2 separate regions of the Homo sapiens genome follow, and region 1 is linked to region 2. The links come from fine-mapping of genetic effects on gene expression. A gene starts in region 2. The other region holds a variant in brackets. All regions are shown on one strand. Distances are from middle to middle. Region 1 overlaps LOC105377778 (a long non-coding RNA gene). Region 2 holds the start of CLN8 (CLN8 transmembrane ER and ERGIC protein).

The links. PIP is the estimated chance that this variant, and not a neighbour inherited with it, causes the effect.
Region 1: its variant is the best candidate, but not a certain one, in a credible set for the expression of CLN8 in whole blood (TOPMed, PIP 0.85).

The regions. Positions count from the first base shown.
Region 1 is chr8:1,738,453-1,748,161 of GRCh38, forward strand. It overlaps LOC105377778 (a long non-coding RNA gene), which reads right to left. Exons shown (of 4, transcript XR_007060784.1): 4 at 4,367-4,400. Among named protein-coding and RNA genes, the nearest start is that of CLN8, 20 kb to the right of the region's middle. The variant G/T (reference allele first, on the strand shown) is at 4,868.
Region 2 is chr8:1,757,953-1,767,661 of GRCh38, forward strand. CLN8 (CLN8 transmembrane ER and ERGIC protein) reads left to right here and starts at 5,837. Exons shown (of 3, transcript NM_018941.4): 1 at 5,837-5,933. It overlaps CLN8-AS1 (CLN8 antisense RNA 1), which reads right to left and starts at 6,632. Exons shown (of 2, transcript NR_134303.1): 1 at 6,482-6,632; 2 at 4,011-4,976.

The DNA of each region.
Region 1 (9,709 bases), 20 kb before region 2:
GTGGAGAACGGAGGAGGGAAATGGGCAGGGGGCACAAGAGACCAGGGCGCTCAGGACGGGGGAGCAGGTCCTCTGTGCACACACAGCCCCAGAAGAGAAGAGAGAATGGGGCAAAAGAATCATAAAGGAGGTGAGAACCAATGATTATTTTTATTTATTTATTTATTTTATTTATTTATTTATTTTTGAGACAGAGTCTCAATCTGTCACCCGGGCTGGAGTGCAGTGGCGCGATGTTGGCTCACTGCAACCTCTGCCTCTGGGGTTCAAGTGATTCTCCCACCTCGGCCTCTTGAGGAGCTGGGACTATAGGCGCCCACCACCATGCCCAGCTAATTTTTGTATTTTTAGTAGAGATAGGTTTTCACTGTGTTGGCCATGCCAGTCTTGAACTCCTGACCTTAGGTGATCCACCTGCCTCGGCCTCCCAGAGTGATGGGATTACAGGAGTGAGCCACCATGCCCGGCCCAATGATTTTTTTTTTTTTTCTGAGACGGAGTCTTGCTCTGTCACCCAGGCTGGAGTGCAGTGGTGCAATCTCAGCTCACTGCAACATCCACCTCCTGAGTTCAAGCAATTCTCCTGCCTCAGCCTCCCGAGTAGCTGGGATTACAGGCACCCGCCACCACACCCAGCTATTTTTTCTATTTTTAGTAGAGACCGGGTTTCACCATGTTGGCCAGGCTGGTCTCGAACTCCTGACCTTGTGATCTGCCCACCTCAGCCTCCCAAACTGCTGGGATTACAGGATGGTTTTTAATAACCAATCAAAGTCAAGTTAAACTCCAGCAGAAACAGATGAGTTTCCTGATGGTTGTGCACAGGCTTCGGACCCAAGGCAAGGTCTTCCTGTCTCGAGGCCTTCTGCCATCATCCTGCCTCCCCAGACATACCCCAGTGATATCGTTTGGATGTTTGACACCCCCAAAACCTCAGGCTGACATTGGATCGCCAGTGTTGGTGCCGGCCTAGTGGGAGGTGTCTGGTCACTGGTGTGGTGGGAGGCGTCTGGGTCACTGGTGTGATGGGAGGTGTCTGGGTCACTGGTGTGGTGGGAGGTGTCTGGTCATTGTGGTAGGAGGTGTCTGGTCACCGGTGTGGTGGGAGGTGTCTGGTCACCGGTGTGGTGGGAGGTGTGTGGTCACTGGTGTGGTGGGAGGTGTGTGGTCACTGGTGTGGTGGGAGGTGTCTGGTCATTGTTGTGGTGGGAGGTGTCTGGTCACTGGTGTGGCCCCTACATAAATGTCTTGGTGCCATCCTCACTCTATTTGTCTCATTTCATTAGCTCTCGCGAGATCTGATTGTTAAAAAGAGCCTGGCAGCTCCTTTCCTCTCTCTCTGTCCCTCTTTATGGCTTTTTTCCTCTTGGCATGTGATGCCTGCTCCGCTTCCCATTCCGCCATGACGCCACGAGCAGAATGATTTCTCACATTTTTTTTTTTTTTTTGAGACGGAGTCTAGTTCTGTCACCCAAGCTGGAGTGCAGTGGTGTGATCTTGGATCACTGCAACCTCTGCCTTCTGGGTTCAAGCGATTCTCCTGCCTCAGCCTCCCGAGTAGCTGGGATTACATGTGCCTGCCATTACGCCCAGCTAATTTTTGTATTTTTAATAGAGGCGGGGTTTCACCAATGTTGGGAAGGCTGGTCTCGATCTCCTGACCTCAGGTGATCCGCCCCCCTCAACCTCCCAAAGTGCTAGGATTACAGGCATGAGCCACTGCGCCCGGCCAATTTCTAATATTTCGGAGGCCTCACCAGTCGCAGATGCTGGCACCATGCTCCCTGTGAAGGCTGCAGAGAGGTGAGCCAAACACACCTCTTTTCTTTATAAATTACTCAGCTTCAGGTAGTCCTTGATAGCAAAACAAATGGACTAAGACACTCATCCTAACTCAGACCCCAGCTTCCCCATGAAGCTGTCAGCAAGACAGCAGCTATGCTCCCCTCCTCCCTCCAGAGTCTGATGGCCTCAGTCCCAGCACGTAGTTCAACCTCCAACTTGACTCTGCCTACCTCATGCAAATGAGCCTATCTCTTTATTCTTCAGGATCCAAAATGGCAACTCCCTGAAGCCAGAGAACCCATCAGAACTTAAAAGTAGACAATTTTTTTAGAGCAGTTTTTGGCTCACAGTAAAATGCACAGAAGGTACAGACACCTGCCATTCGCTGCCTGTCCCCTCTCCCCTGCACGCATAGCCACCCCCCACCAGCAAGTGTGGTGCATTTGTTACCATTGGTGAACCCACATGGACACGTCTTCATTGCCTGGAGTCCGTGGTTTACACGAGGGCTCGCTCTAGGTGTTGTTCATCCTCTGGGTCTGCACAGATGTACACTGACTCTTATCCACCATGACAGTGCCATGCAGAGTAGCTTCACTGCCCTGAAGATCCTCTGTGCAGTGTAACTTCATCACCGTTAGGAAGAAAACAATCTCTTTTAACATCACGTGTGAATAAGACAGATGATGTCCCAGCCCACCATGGGGCTTCCCATTCTTGTGAGGTGGGAAGGGCAGGACAGAAAATAAACAGTCCACAAAGAGATAAAAATAATTATCATGTCATTTTTATGACATGATAGATCATTCTATCATGAATGTTTAAGATCATTCAATGAGTGAAATGCAAGGACATGAGCGAGTAAGAGAGGGAGGCAGGCCCGACAGGTAGTGGCGTCCCAGGTGGTAGCTCCTCCTCGGAGCCCAGCCAGAGTTGAGACCTGAAGGATGAGGAGGACTTGGTCCTTGGACAATAGAAGAAATAAAGACCCAGGTAGAGAGGCAAAAGCAAATGTGAAGGCCCAGAAGCTTGAAAAGGCTGAGCCTGTCCTGGGAGTTATCAGAGGCACAGTCTGATCAGAGTGGAGTCAATAAGGAGTGGTGGTGAGACCCACGTTGGGTAAGGACAGAGACGTCCCATGCTTGACTCCTTGGACATGTGACCTCAGCTTCCTTAGCTGTAAAACGTGACAGGTGGCCAGGCGCGTTGGCTCATGCCTGTAATCCCAGCACTTTCGGGAGGCCGAGGCGGGTGGATCACGAGGTCAGGAGATCAAGACCATCCTGTCTAACACTGTGAAACCCCGTCTCTACTAAAAATTCAAAAAATTAGCCAGGCGTGGTGGCACGCAGCTGTAGTCCCAGCTACTAGGGAGGCTGAGGCAGGAGAATCGCTTGAACCCGAGAGGCGGAGCTTGCAATGAGCAGAGATCACACCACTGCACTCCAGCCTGGGCAAGAAAGCGAGACTCCGTCTCAAAAAAAAACAAAACAACAACAACAAAAAACACAAAACAAAATATGACAGGTGCCACTTGCTGTTGTGGAGGACATCCAGATGCTGTGAGTGATAAAGAAATGCGTGATGGCAGAATCTTTGTTTCCAAGAGTTTATAATTTGGTGGAAATAAAGTGGAGAAGCAGGAAGACCTACACAGTGGACTGGCAGAGCAGCAGAGTCCCTTGACCGTGCTGCAGGGCATTTCAAAGAGGACGGCAACGGGAGGTAAAAGAGGACGGCGAGGGGAGGAGGTGTCTGCTCCCAGGGAAACCTCCCCTGGGTGTTTGGCGATGTCTTCCCCACGTTCACATGATAACCTTTATCTGTCATGAGCAGGTGAAGGTTCAGATAAACACACAAACAGTGATCCTGTCAACATTCTTGTGCATGACCTTGTGTGCAATATGTTTGCATTTCTGCTGGTCGTGGGGAATCACAGTGTCGCCATGGAAGCTTCAGTTCAGTTTCAGTGGTTATTGGTCCAGGGTCAATGCAAAAATGTTACTTCCCCCCAGGGGTGCGCAAGTGAGTTCAGTTTCCACACAGTAGTGTGTGAGTGAGTTCAGGCCCCGCCGTGGTGTGTGAGTTCAGTCCCCTCAGTGCTGTGTGAGTGAGTTCAGTCCCCCCATGGTGTGTGAGTGAGTTCAGTTCTCCTCAGCAGTGTGTGAGTTCAGTTCCCACCAACAGTGTCTGAGTTCAGTTTCTCTGTATCCACACTGATTCCTGCTCCTCTTTCCTGACTTTGCTGTCCTGGCGGCTATGTAGTGATATCTCACTGTGGTTGTAAGCAGCAGCCACTGATGAATAACACAGGGGAGCATCCGTTGAGTAGCCATTTTGATCTTTTCTTTGGTACAGTGCTTGTTCAGGTCTTTTGCCCATTTCTCTATTTAAATCGCTTGTTTTTTCTAATTGATTTGTAGGAATTTCTTGCATGCTCTAAACTCAGGGGTCAAGGCTGTGGTCTGGTGTTGGTGTGGGTGTTGCACTCCTGCTGTCCCAGTCCCAGGTACTTGGGAGGCTGAGATAGGAGGATCGCTTGAGCCTGGGACGTCAGGGCTGCAGTGAGCCGAGGTTGCACCAGTGCACTCCAGCCTGGGTGACAGAGTGAGATCCTGTCTCAAAAATAATAAAATAAAATAAAATAAAATAAAATAAAATAAAAATAGTCAGGGATCAGCAAACTTTTCCAGTAATGAGCCAGAAAGTTAACCTTTTAGGCTTTGTGAGCCATGTGGTCTCTGTGGGACCTTTTCTCCTGCTGTCACGTAAAACAGCTGCAGACAATACTAAACCCATGAGCCTGGTGCTGTTCAGTTTATCTTATTTTGATGGACTTGAAAACGTGAACAGCATATCATTTTTACATGTCACAAAACATCATTCTCCTTCTACATTTTTGAACCATTAAAAAAAAATAAAATTCATGGTTAGCTTACAGAGAATACAAAATAAATGGATGGTGGACCTGATTTGGCCTGAGGGCCTTGTTTTGCCAGCCCTGCTCTAGATGAAGATCCTGGGTCAGTTACACACCTGGCAATAGCTTCCCTCAGGTTCCTAATGTTTTCCTTTGAGAAAT[G/T]AAAGTGTTTTCCTTGGATGCAGCCCTGGTTCTCCTTCTTCCTTCGGGCAGGTGGCTGGTTTGGACTGGAAGGAAAGTGCATCTCCCCTGCTCTTTAGTGTCCTCTGGAGGGATAGGAGCACCCACAGATCTGCAATGATGGGTGCCAGCCGCCCCCGGCGGGGGAATGAGTGCTCACTATGAGGCAAGTGACCACCACGAGCAGGAAGGTCCCTCCCACTGAGGGACGGCTTGTGCAGTCCTGGCCTGGGGGCTGATCTCCACCATGGTTCCAATCTCCTCCTGCTATGCCTTTGCCATTTTCAGAGCTTATTCTCTTTCTCTGCTCTGAACAAATAGGCAGCCTAAAACTACAACCTTTAAAACTCTCCCATAAAGAAACCTGTGGCGTTGATGAATGTAGGGGGGGCTTCCCACTAGGAGGGGATGAGCGGGGCTTGATGTTTCCGCAGATGTCTGTGCCCGCACTGGCGACTCCGATACTCCAATGCAGGTTCATCAACTGTAACACACGGACCAGTCACGGCGTTGGCCGTTCTCTGGTTTGGGCACATGTAGAATGACACGTACCCACCATTACAGTGTCACTGCCTAAAATTCCTTCGTGCAGCATCCCTTTTCCGCTGGTAGGGGGGAAGCAACCTCTTTGAGCCTCACGGTGTGAATAAACACAGATGATCGTCCTGTAGAAAATAGCTGCTCCTTCATTTCCACCTTCCAAATTTCTGCAAATCTCTCTTTCCTCCAACAGGACGTTGGAACCATTCAGGGAAGGGAACTTTGAGAAACACAGATTAGCTAAGAGAACGCGGTACAGAGCCACTCAGAGAGAAGACAAATGCGTCATCACGACAAAGGCTCGACGCTGATAGGGTCAAGGCCCTTCTAGTGACAGAAGAGAGAGGGGAGAGCCAGCGGAAGGAGCCGCGTGCCTGGCGGGAGGCTCCTTGAGGACGAGAGAAGATGAAAACTCGGGAAGGCAGCTCCCTAGGCAGGTCTTCCGTGATATGCAGGAACTATCCCGGCTGGGAATGTGACGGTGAGACGTGACACCGCGAAGGATGGCAGCACGTGCACAAATAAGGGGTGAAGGTCAAGGGTGAGGTCTGGAAACGGGCTGGCGTGGCCGGGAGGGGGACTTCCTGGAGGAAGGTGCAGGGCAGGAAATGGGAGCAGGGCCCCTGGATGGGGCCGGATCCGAGGGGAGGGCAGGCACCTAAACACTTCGAGTACCCAATGGCGTGCCGCATGACACTTGCTATGACCTTGGCATCAACACGGGACCCGGCTCGTGATGGGCAAACTGCACGAGGATAAAAACGTTCCCCTGAGATGTTAGGAGAAAAAAAAAATTGGCCGGGCGTGGTGGCTCACACCTGTAATCCCAGCACTTTTGGAGGCCGAGGCTGGTGGATCACCTGAGGTCAGGAGTTTGAGACAGCCTGGCCAACATGAGGAAACCCCGTTTCTACTAAAAATACAAAAATCAGCCAGGCATGATGGCACACACCTGTAATCCCAGCTACTCGGGAGGCTGAGGTACAAGAATTGCTTCACCCCGGGAGGCAGAGGTTGCAGTGAGCCGAGATCACACCATTGCACTCCAGCCTGGGCGATGAGAGCAAAACTCCGTCTCAAAAAAAAAAAAAAAAAGAAAAAGCGGAAAAAAAGTCACAAGAACAGCTAAACAGCTCTATGTGGCCCTGAGCCTGGCACTCCGGTAGCACTTGGTGAACGCTGGATGAATGTAGCACTTGGTGAATGCTAGATGAATGGCTTAATGAGTCAGCAAAGGAAGCTCACCAGTTCTTCTTTTCCATGATGAAAAGGTAGTTTCCCCATATGACCATAGGCTCTCAATGGGCAGGGAGCGATGGAGACAGCTCAGCCTTTGATTCTAGTCCTTACATGGAAGACAGCGTATTGCAGAGACTCAGCCACAAAGAGAACTGAATACGGTGTCTGAAATTCTCCTTCTCCTGAATTGTCAATGTTGGTGTCTTTTCGCTTCTGAACAGCATTCCGTGAGAGAACCACGACCCTGGCCCAAACGTGTAGGCTGTGGCTGGCTGTTTTGTTTTGTCGTGGTTTGTCTGGATGCACAAAAATGCTTAAGCTTTAAGTCTCTGATAGTTTACATTTTGTGATGTAAGAACAAGAAAAAAAAACTTCCTCCAACCTAATGCTCTCTGCAAACCAGAAACAAAGTAAACAAGCAAAACCTGCTCTGCTCAGCTTCCGTAATTCCAAATGTTTTATAAGGGTGACTGCAGCATTGGCGGCTTGCTATCTCCAGACTGTGGGCTGTCCCTCACAGCCAGGCCATGACTCAGTCACCTCTTGCTCTCTCGGGGTGTCTGCCCAATGGATTTGTCACAGAATCAGAGGCCCAGTGAGTGACCAAGGCTTGCCTGAGCAGGATATGAAAGCCGCGCTGCTAGAATCTAAGCTGGACCGCAGCATAGGCCACGCGCTTTCCATCCTACCTGCCCTGTAACGTGACTGACGTTAGCTGCGGTGGGGCGAGGAGCGCCGTCTTGTGTCCTGAGTTTGATCACCTCGTCAGACCACAAGTTGGAGGTGTGGGTTTCTGAAGTGACAACATCCTCACTGAAATTCTGCCCATGCACTTTCTCTTCTCATTTTGTTTCCACCCACCGTGACCTTTTTCCTCTTTTTCCACCCCAAAGGAAGAGAAATGTCAAGAAAATAACACTACAGAGCACATATGGAGGAAAGGCAGACAGTGCAAAGATTGCAATAACTGTGTTCCTCCAAGTTATAAGATGTGGAAATAAGACAAGTGATGGGTCCCACGTCCAACGTGGCTCGGCTAGAAGGTGCTTTCTGCTTTAATATGTGGGGATTTCTGGCTGTCTCTGGACTGTGCCCAACAATAAGCCCTAAAAAGTGAACCCTGATTCAGCTGTGAGGGCCTGAGGTCCAGCAGCTCTGCACTGTGGCTCTCTGGCCCCACCCACCCCAGCTTGTGACTGGTGAGTCACCCAGCCCAGCAGACACCATCGTGCCCTCTGCAGATGCACAAGCTGCTTCCTGCCTTGCTTTCCTCCCAGAGCTGTTTGCCATAAATGACCACACGTGTAAGAAAGCACATTGCATACTTCTAACATTCGGTGTGAGCACCACGTGTACACATAAACAAGTATCCGTGCGTTTATCTACAAAATAGAAGTAGTCCAAGGATATGGTACAGCTGTTAAAAGGCTTGACAAAATTGAAACACAGTAATGGTGCTTCTGAAGTTTGCCAAATTTCTATGATGATGAAAAAGCTTTTATCCCAGATACAAAACCTTTGTTCTCAGCATCATCTAGTGACAAGTCGATGGGACTAGGCATTAAGAGATGGGATGTGGATTAAGTAGGATCACTGGGTTTTGGTGAAAGACACCGTTATGAGTTGAATTATACCCCATTCAAAAAAAAAAGGTATGTTGGAGACCTAACCACCCCCCATACCTGGAAATGTGACTTTATTTGGAAATAGGGTCTTGTCTATTTCCAAAGAGGGAATGAAATTAAATCAAATTCAGATAAGGTCATGAGGGAGGATCCTAATTGAATACAGTCAGTGTTCTTATAAAAAGGGGAAACTGGGACACAGAGAGACACACACAGAGGAAGGACACCACGTGAGGACTGGAGCTCCACCACCGAGCCGAGGAGCCACTCAGCCCAGGGGCCACCCAGCCGAGGGGCCACCGGAGGCCAGATCCAGGCCCAGCTGGGACAGACCCTCCCCTGGAGCCTTCAGGGGAGCTCAACCCTGCGGACACCGGGATCTCCGACTTCTGGCTTGGGAGAGAAGACCGTCCTATTGTTTGTGGCACTTTGTTATGGCAGCCCTAACAAACTGATACAGACCCTAAAGCGAGAGGGGTGAACACAGTTCTGACTTTGAAGGCACCAAAGCCCACGTTTGCATTCCAGTTCTGATGCTTATTGATGGTGGCACCACCTGATTTCTCTGAGCTTATTTTCTTTTCATTTATTTATTTTTGAGAGGGAGTCTCACTCTGTCGCCCAGGCTGGAGTGGAGTGGCATGATCTCAGCTCACTGCAGCCTCTGCCTGCTGGGTTCAAGCGATTCTCCTGCCTCAGCCTCCTGAGTAGCTGGGAGTACAGGCACCCGCCACCATGCCCAGCTATTTTTTTTTTTGTATTTTTAATAGAGACAGGGTTTCACCATGTTGGCCAGGCTGGACTCGAACTCCTGACCTCAGGTGATCCACCTGCCTCAGCCTCCCAAAGTGCTGGGATTACCAGTGTGAGCCACTGCAACCTGGCTTTATTTTCTTTGTAAAAAGACATGTGTATCTATCTGAACACACAGATTACAGATACAGATGTGGACATAGATGTAGCTATGGACATAGATGTATATAGATATAGATATAGTAATATAGTTTAGATATTTGTCCCCACCCAAGTCTCATGTTGAGTTGTAATCTCCAGTGTTGGAGATGGGGTCTGGCGGGAGGGGTTTAGTTCGTGGGTGAAGATCCCTCGTGGCTTTGTGCTGTCCTCACAATGGTGAGTGAGTTCTCAGGAGGTCTGGGTGTTTAAGTGTGTGGCAGCTCCCCCAACCCACTCTCTCTCTCTCTGACTTCAGCTCTGTCCATGTGACACACCTGCTCCTGCTTCACCTTCCGCCATGAGCAAAAGCTCCCAGAGGCCTCCCCAGAAGCGGAGCAGATGCTGGTACGATGTTTGCGCAGCCTGCAGAACCGTTAGCCAATTCCACCTCTTTTCTTTGTAAATGACCCAGTCTCAGGTATTTCTTTATAGCAATGCAAGAATGACTTAACAGATATAGACACAG
Region 2 (9,709 bases):
GGGACCAATCTCATCCTTTTACACTTGTGGCTCAGAGAGGTTAAGCAACCCCTCCAAGGTCACACAGCCAGCAGAAGTAACACCCAGCATAGAGATCACCAAGACAGCATCAGAGCCCTTTAGTACGATATCCCGAGTGTCCCGCATGCAAGCCATCGGCACTGTGTTTTGTGGCTCAATATTTTTCAGTTTTTAAGAAAGATACACTTTTTGGAAAAAGAAATGGACACAGTGAATGCCCGCATCAGCAGAAAGACAGTTTTCTATAATGAGTTCTTTTTCTCTTTATTTCTAAGGTTTAATTTTGCCACACTTGCTAAAGAAAACATTATACACGGCCCTTATTAAAGAACGGTAAGACAGACTTGTCAACACAAAGAGTCAAATTTGTAAATTAGTTGATGAGATTTATTCTGAGCCAAATATGAGGACTTTGATTGATGACACAGCCCCATGAGGTCCTAAGAACTGCTGCATAAGGTGGTTGGGTTCTAGCTGGATTTTATGCATTTTAGGGGGACAGAAGTTACAGGCAGAAAATAAGAAAAGGGCAAGACGATCCCCTGCCACCTCCATGACGTCATTTCAGTTCTCTTCTCCAAACACCTCACAGTATCGTATTTCAAAATTCGGCTTTGTCATTTAGCAGTGTGTGGAGGTGTACATGTTGCCAATCGATACATGTAAGGTGTCCAGTGGTTTGGTCCAGAAAGGTGACACAACTCCATGGATGCAGGTGGAAGGTGTCCAGGTCACAGATGGATTCAACGATTTTCTGATGGGCAATTAATTGAAAGAGTTAAGTTATTATTGTAGAGACCTGGAATGAATAGAAAGGATTGTCTGGGTTACGATAAAGGTTGTGGAGACCAAGGTTTTTTATCTTCAGAGCTCTTATTGGACCTAAAAGAGGTGCCAGACTCTTAGTTAAATCTCTCCTAGATCAGGGAAAAGACCTGGAAAGGGAAGGGGATTCTGGCAGGATGTGGATTTTCCCCTCAAGAGACAGCCGTGTGGGGCCCCTTCAAAATATGTCAAAGAAATATATTCTGGGGTAAAATGCTTGATTTCTTCCAGGGCCTGCTCTCTATCATGTGATGCTATACTAGAGTCAGGTTGGAATGTAGTATCTTATTGCTACAGAGTCTGTTTTGTCAACCTTAAGATCTCTGCTTTGACGTTAATGCAGGTCAGCTGTGCCTGGATTTCAACGGAAGGCGGGTATAAGGAGCCTGTCCCACCCCCACTTCCCATCACGGTCTGAACTAGTCTCTAAGGTTTACTTTGGAAAGCTCGTGGCTAACGGGGTTGGCGGGGGACTAGAATTTTATTTTTGTTTTACAGTCTCAAAGGAATCGCGATAGGTGCAGGGGCCACTGCAGTGGGACTAGGCTCAACTCTGAGTGTAAGAAGAAAAACGGGAATGTACAGCCACGGAGAGGGTGAGAACGGACGGAAAACTATGAAGAGGCTACATCAGGCCAGGGGGGTTCTTGCTAGAACCACTTGGTAGGATTCGTGCCACAGGCAGGCCAGGTGATAAGATACCGAGGGTGAGGGATGAGGAGTATGATATCAGGGGCGGGGAACTGTCACTGCATTGACCCAGCAGGATTCTTTTGGACGAAAGGGGACAGGGGTCCAGGTCAGAGCCTTGAGGGCTTCGAGGACCCTGCCTGGAGTTAGGTCAGGTAGAGTCTTTGCCACATTGAGGCTGAGAAGCTGAGCAGCTGATCTGCGGGAGTCCAGAGACCCTCATGCTTCCTGCAGATGTGCTGTCAGCAGATCCTGAACTTGGGTTCCAGTGTTTTAAAGTGTTGTTTGCAAGCACCGCGGTCCTGCTCTCCCACTCACAGAACTACTATTGCTCACTGGTGAAGGACACTGGATTTAAAATCACAGACGTTCTTTTTCGCCTCTCGCTCATTATACATCCCTTTGAGGACACCGTCATTTTGCTGTTTAGGAGGAAGAAACAGGCAGAAGAGAACTCCTCCCATCCCTCCGCTAATGGCTTTTAAAACAGTCTTTTTTGTAATGGAACAACCAAACCTCACAATGAGCGTATATTGCTTGTGTGACCAGAAAGTAAGACAGTCCCCTGACACCTCAATTAAGTCATTTTGGTTGTCTACTCCAGACACCTCATGGCATCGTACTTCAAAATTCAGCTTTGTCATTTAGCAGTGTGTGGAGGTGCACACATTGCTAACCTCAGGCTCACTGAACACTGTTTTTTTTCTATGACGTGGATAATGGTGCCTGCGTCAGACACCTGTGATGTTTGAAAGAACCAGTTTATCAAAGTGCTTAGCCTGACGCCTGACACGCTGTGCACCCAAGATAAATGTTTGTTGTGTCATTCGATCTGTCGAGGAAGGAGGTGAGACACTTGTGGGTGGCAGGGCGGGAGGGGAGTACACAGGCTGTAAACAGCAGTGCCCAAGCTGAGACGGAGCAAGCTGGGAATCCGCCCGGGTTTCATTCAGTGTTCCACACCCCGCATGGATACTGGTTATACCTGTGATCAGTTATGCCTGTGATGGTTTTTTAGAAAACAAAACTATTTTATCACTCTGCTTTAAAGATGGCCGAGTGGAAAGACACAGTCCTGGAATGTTTAAATTCAAGCTGAAGAGCTTACTAGCCACGTGACTGAGCAAGTTATGGTTCCATCTTTCTAAGCCTCACTTCATTCTTTGTTAAGACAGGCCTCAGCATGCTGTTAGTAGGAATCTAAGGAACCCAGTGCTGATGGAGAAAGGGGTCCAGTCCAGACCCTAAGAGAGAGTTCTCGGATCTTGCGCAGGGAGGAACTCAAGGCAGTCGCAGAGTGCAGTGAGAGACAGCTGCTCTGATACAGAGTGGGGAGCCCGCGGAAAGCAGGAAGAAGAATGTGCCATCTTTGTTTCAAAGGCATCTTGTATCAATGTAAAAGCCAAGCTACGTGTAAGTGCAGGTGGGCTGGCAGTGTGACAAGATCTAGTACTTGGTGGATGTAAATAACGTTATCCTTGGCATTTCAGTGCGTAACTACATCTAAGCATGACTATAGCCATCTTTTTTTTTTTTTTTTTTTTTTTTTGAGATGGAGTCTTGCTCTGTTGCCCAGGCTGGAGTGCAGTGGCATGATCTCGGCTCACTGCAACCTCCGCCTCCCAGGTTCAGGCAATTCTCCTGCCTCAGCCTCCCACGTAGCTGGGATTACAGGCTACTGTAACTGCCAATCAGGTTCATGTTGCCTACACAGAGCTGATTTATCCAAACAGGTGAACTGCATAGAGAAAGAATAATCCACACAGAGCTGGCTGTGCGGGAGACCAGAGTTTTATTATTACTCAAATCAATTTCCCCAAGAATTCGGAGTTCAGAGTTTTTGCTGTTGTTTTTGAGATGGAGTCTTGCTCTGTTGCCCAGGCTGGAGTGCAGTGGTGCGATTTCAGCACACTGCAACCTCCGCCTTCAGGGTTCAAGCAATTCTCCTGCCTCAGGCTCCCAAGTAGTTGGCATTACAGGCGTGCACCACCACGCCTGGCTAATTTTTGTATTTTTAGTAGAGACGGGGTTTTGCCATGTTGGCCAGGCTGGTCTTGAACTTCTGACCTCAAGTGATCCGCCTGCCTCGGCCTCCCAGAGTCCTGGGATTACAGGTGTGAGCCACCGTGCCCAGCCCTGGAGTTCAGAGTTTTTAAGGATAATTTGGTAGGTAGGGGGCCAGTAAGCTGGGAGCACTGAGGGGTCAGATCAGAGATGAAATCGTATGGATCAAAGCTGTCCTCTTGGCCTGAGCCGGTTGCTGAGTGCGGGCCACAAGATCAGATGAGCCAGTTTATCCATCTGGATGGTCCCAGCTAATTCAGCAAGTGCAAGGTCTGCAAAATATCTCAAGCACTGTTGTTAGGTTTTTCAATAGTGATGTTATCCCCAGGAGCAATTTAGGGAGGGTCAGAATCTTGTAATCTCCAGCTGCATGAATTCTAAACCATAATTTCTAATCTTGTGGCTAATTTGTTAGTCCTACAAAGGCAGTCTAGTCTCCAGACAAGAAAAGGATTTGTTTCGGGAAACCATAAACTAAGTTTCTTCCAAAGTTAGTTTGGCCTACACCCAGGAATGAACAAGGACAGTTTGGAGGTTAAAAGTAGGATGGAGTTGGTTAGGTCAGATCTCTCACTGTCTCAGTTATAATTTTGCAATGGTGGTTTCACTGGTTTTAAGATGGAGTTTATTTTATTTTATTTTTATTTTTTTGAGACAGAGTTTCATTCTTGTTGCCCAGGCTAGAGTGCCATGGCGTGATCTCAGCTCACTGCAACCTCTGCCTCCTGGGTTCAAGCAATTCTGCTTCAGCCTCCTGAGTAGCTGAGATTACAGGTGCCCACCACCACACCCGGCTAATTTTTTTCTCCCAAACTGCTGGGATTACAGGCTTGAGCCACCGCGCCCGCCAAGATGGGTTGTTGATTTTAAAACGATGTCACCCTGGCTCTCCTAGGTTCCTGTTCCCCTAACATCATGAAGGCTGCTGGCAGTTCTCTGGCCTCCAGGGAGGCCTCCACACACATTTACCCATGTTCTTAGACAATCCTAGGGACTCAAGGCTTCAACAAACCTAAATGAGCCAGCAGAAAAATAAACTTGAACATGAATGTCAACGTTTTCCCACATGTACTAAAGGGTTATAATAATTTTGAAATGTTTATTTCAAAGAGCGTTGGTAATTTAAACGTCCTATTTAATCCCCAAAACAGTCCTGAGGGGGAGATAAGGCAGTTATCTTCATAGTACAGGAAAGGAAAAAAGCGAGGGTCCAAGGCCGACTATACCCTCAGCTCCATTAGCCCCCGAGGCCTCCCTGACAGGCGGGGCGGACAATCCCAGTGCAGATGCTCTGTATCGATCGCATGCTATCGGTTCTTTCAAGGAACGTGTATTGATCATCAATTAAGTGGTGAGTACTCCTCTAGATGTCGATTCTAAAGAGGGAACAAAACACATTAGACAGAAGAAACATAAGTAACTCGAATAACAACCTTAGAGAGAAGAAACATAAGTAACTCGAATAACAACCTTAGCAAACTGCGGAAACTCCTACAGACAAAAACTCAGGTGTGGGCGCAGAAGGGCCGGGGATGCGCTCGGTCAAGACTTGAAGGTCCGGGGCTTGGGCCCTGTGTCCTCACCGAGCCCCGGGGAGGCTCCGGCTCCGTCCACACCCGGAGCGCGACTCAGCCGCGGCCGGGGCTCTTCTGGAGAACGGCGCGGTCAGGCTCTGCCGCAGCTTTCAGGTCCCCTCGGCCCCGTCCGGGTGCAGCGCAACCAGGCTGCCCGCGGAGCCCCACCGCCCCCATGCCGCCGCCCGCCATGGTTCAGCCCGGCCCCGCCCCTCCCGCCGGCCGTGGTTCAGCGCGTCCACCCCGCCGCCCCACAGCGCCCGCCGCGCCGCGCCCCGCCCCCCGCCGCGCCCCGCCCCCCGCCGCGCCCCGCCCCCCGCCGCGCCCCGCCCCCCGCCGCGCCCCGCCCCCCGCCGCGCCCCGCCCCCCGCCGCGCCCCGCCCCCCGCCGCGCCCCGCCCCCCGCCGCGCCCCGCCCCCCGCCGCGCCCCGCCCCCCGCCGCGCCCCGCCCCCCGCCGCGCCCCGCCCCCCGCCGCGCCCCGCCCCCCGCGCCGCGCCCCGCCCCCCGCCGCGCCCCTCCCGCGCCCGCCGCCCCGCCCCTCCCGCGCCCGCCGCCGTCGTAGCGCCTAGGCGGGGCCTCTCGTAGCGACGCCCCCAGGGGGGCAGAACGCGTGCGCACGCGCGTGCGAACGCGCGTGCGCGGGCGGTGTTTGAGGCCGGCCAGTCGTGACTGGGCGGCAATGAGGTCAGTGACTGCCGGGAGTCCTGCAGGGGCGGGGCGGCGCCAAGCGCAGGGAGCCCGGCTGAGTGGCAGCCCAGGTGAGCGCTCAGGGAGCCCGGGTGAGGGCCGGGAACCCAGGTGAGGGGCAGCCCAGGTGAGCGCGCGGGGTGCCCGGGTTAGGGGCCGGGAACCCAGGTGAGGGGCAGCCCAGGTGAGCGCGCGTGGAGCCCAGGCGAGGGGGCTGGGAAGCCCGGGTGAGGGGACCGGGGATCCCAGGTGAGGGGCCGGGAACTCAGCTGAGGGGGAACCCAGATGGGCGCGCGGGAGCCCACGTGAGGGGGAGCCCGGGTGAGGGGCCGGGGTGGCTCCTGGCGTCCGCGGTCCCAGCCCTGCCTTCCGGTGGGCGTGCGGCACCCCGGGCCGTGCGGTTCCCGGACAGCAGCTTGTGGGGGACTTTCGAGCCCCGCAGCCCGGGGTCCTGCCTGCGCGGGTTGGGCGTGGGGGGCTCCTCACCGCGACGCTGACTTTGGAGTCCTTGAGCGGCGCGGATGCCGGACGGAGGGAGGGGACAGGCGGAGGCGGAGGCGGCGCCGTCGCCCCTGACCTCGCTTCCCTCAGACCGGCTGGGCAAGTACGGTCAGCTCACCTGTGTGCCCACGAGGCGGGGAGGCGGCTCCTGCAGAGCCACAGAGGTGCCGTCGGAGCTGCTGTCAAGGACAGCAGGTGTCACGTGGGTGTGGCCTCCACTGGTCACCGAGTTAGCTGGGGCGGAAGGGGACAAGGTGCAGCTCAACATGGTGTGGGAGGCGGAGGGACGCTGGGTCAGTCAGAACCTGTAGGAGCGGGGAGGGACGCTGGGTAAGGTCACCAAAGTGTGCGGGGGAGAGAGCGGGCGCTGGGTCAGGTCAGCAGGAGGTGGGACCCGCCTGGGCTCTGGGCCCTATAGCCAGCTGCTCTAGGTTGGGGTTGGGTGTGGACAGTAGGGAGGGGAGCCAGGGGCTCCCCAGCCTGTGTAGATTCTGCTGTAAGTGACTCTTCTCTGAAAGACTGGCGCGAGGCGGCTGCTTCTGACTCCTGTTTCAGTTTACCCTCTGTGTGAAATCTGTAACTATCCAGCTTCTGCTTACCTCACTCCCGTATTTTGATTTTTATTTACATACAACTTTTCAGGAAGGTTGTGAGAGGAAAGAGCAATGGTGCAGGAAGTGTGAGTGATTGAGGGAATATGAGATGGCCACAGCTCCCCACTGAGCTTGAACACTTCTGTGCCTCACTTTCAGATTGGCCGTCATGGAGGCTGTGGTTGTTAAGGAAGTTCTTCCTGAGCATCCAGTTTCCATACAAAGAGCACAGGTTCTCTAGGTGGCCTCAGAGATGTTCAATACACAATGTCTTCTGATAACGAGGAACTGGGCAAAAGCCTGGTAGGACACCGGGTAGGTAAATGGTGGAGTCCCTGCAACCGTGTTGCAGAGGAGGATTAGCTGTTGCTGAGAGAAGAGAAGCAGGCCGGGGAGCAGCTTGTATACTGTTATCCCCTTTTATGTAAAAAGAAGAGTTTATATCTAGAAAAACAATTGACCCAGCAGGCACCAAAAAATAGTGATGGTGCTTGGAGCTGTGTAAGAGGATTGTAAATTTTTATTTTTGTATTTTTATGCTTGTTTATATTTTCTGAATTTTGTGTATTAAACATGTATTTCTGTTGATTTTGGAAAACATTTTTACAACCCATCAATGTATAATTTTCAAAATGTTAGAAGTATAATTCTCATGTAAATAGCTCTTGTCAGGTTATATTTCAGTCATTAATGCAGTATACAGCAGGATAGGAATGTCAGTTCAAAAGAGAATACACAAAACTAGGATTTTCTTAGTGAGTGGGTAACAGGAATGCTGAGAGAAGATTGCCAGATTAGATAATAAGATTGGTGAATATCCTGTGTGCATTGAAACCACAGCCTTTGGGATTGTCTTTTCTTCTTGATGGAAAGGAGAATTAGCTTTGCAGATTGTAAAATGCGTGACCCACAATCAGTGGTAAATAGTTTAGTTATTTCTCCTAGAAAGTCAAGTGATTGTTGGGGTTGTAAAACACTGAACTTGCGTTAGCAGGGAAAAAAGCATGCAACCTTTTTTTTCCCTTTTGACGTCACTTCCAAGTTTGGATAAATTATCTCAATGAAAAACAAAAATGCTGGTATCCATAGCAGTTTAGCCCCCATAAACCGGAGGAGCGCATAGATGCATGACAGAGTCGAAGGGTTCCAGTGGCCACTGAGCCTGGTTCCTGGTCACACTGCAGCAACAGAGCTAACACTCTTACTGATGTGTTTGCATTCAGATTTTTAAAAAACTTCATGGCCCAGTGCAATAGAAGAGCTGAAACCACAGAATCTTATAAGACAAGCTTTTTGTATACATTTTCTCCAAAGAAAATGAAGATCTGCAGCGTCAAGAGATGGTGGCCTTCCAGGAGTTGTTTATTCTCCGGCTCCACTTCCTCTACTGCAGAGAGGAAAGGGGCTGGTGTGGAAGGGCTTGGAAGCCTTCCAGAATGAAAGAACCAGATGAGTCCATTAGGTTCGGCCTCCAGTTTTTTGTTTTTTTTTTTTTTTTTGAGACGGAGCCTCACTCTGTCACCCAGGCTGGAGTGCAGTGGCGCTATCTCAGCTCACTGCACGTTCCGCCTTCCAGGTTCCCGCCATTCTCCTGCCTCAGCCTCCCGAGTAGCTGGGACTACAGGCGCTCGCCATCACGCCTGGCTATTTTTTTTTTGTATTTTAGTAGAGACAAGGTTTCACCATGTTAGCCAGGATGGTCTCGATCTCCTGACCTCGTGATCCTCCCACCTTGGGCTCCCAAAGTGCTGGGATTACAGGTGTGAGCCACCCTGCCCGGCCGATTCGGCCTCCAGTTTTACCCATGGAAGGAACAGTGACTTCCAGCTGTGCATTACACTTAAGGACTCCTTCATGTGGCCTGAGCCTTATGGTGCACAGCAAGGGAACAGTGGGAACCCCTGTGTCCCATTTTGCGTATCAAGAGTGAGAGGGTGTGGTTGGGTCAAGGAGCAGAAATAGAAGCAAAAGGAGAAGCTGAGCTCTTCCCATACCCCTTCTGTGCTGCCTGACAGAACAAGGCCTAGCCACACTTCTGTGGGTGCCCACCTTGTGACTTGGGGTGAACCACAGCTGTTCTCAGTACAACGCTGATGCCACGAAAGGACAGCAGAGCTCTGCAGGACTCCAGGAAGACTGGGCGCTTGGGCTGGATCCTGCCTCTGGGACTGGCCTTCTACCCTCATGGCTGAGAGAGCTGAGGAGTTCACCTCCTTTGTGAACTCCTGGCTGGAGGATGCTGGTTGGCATTAACTAAACTCAGAGACCCACAGTAACGAGTTAGACTAGAACAGCACCAGCTTACCCAGAAAGTCAGGAGGTTTGAGCAAAGAATCAGAATGGGGGATTCACTACAGGACTGGAAGGGGAAGTAAGCATTCTGGTCTTTATAATCTGCTGTTTCTGCATCCCTAATTGGCACCTGTTCTCTGACTGCCAGGAGGGTTTGCCCACTCAGCTGTGGCTTACCTGTTTCTGTTTCCATGTCTTTCACCTATCTGCCACTTTTCTGTAGATATGGTAATCTCTCCAAAAAGATATCTAGAAAGCTTGAAGACCTGGTAGCTATTTGCTCTTATGGTGAAGATCACACAAACTAGTTGAACATCTGGCTTGTAGTAGGTGCTTCATTTCCCGCTGCTCTGTATGTTTCTTTCTTTTTTTTTTTTTTTTTTTTTTTTGAGACGGGGTCTCATCTTGTCACCCAGGCTGGAGTGCAGTGGCGCAATCTCAGCTCACTGCCACCTCCACCT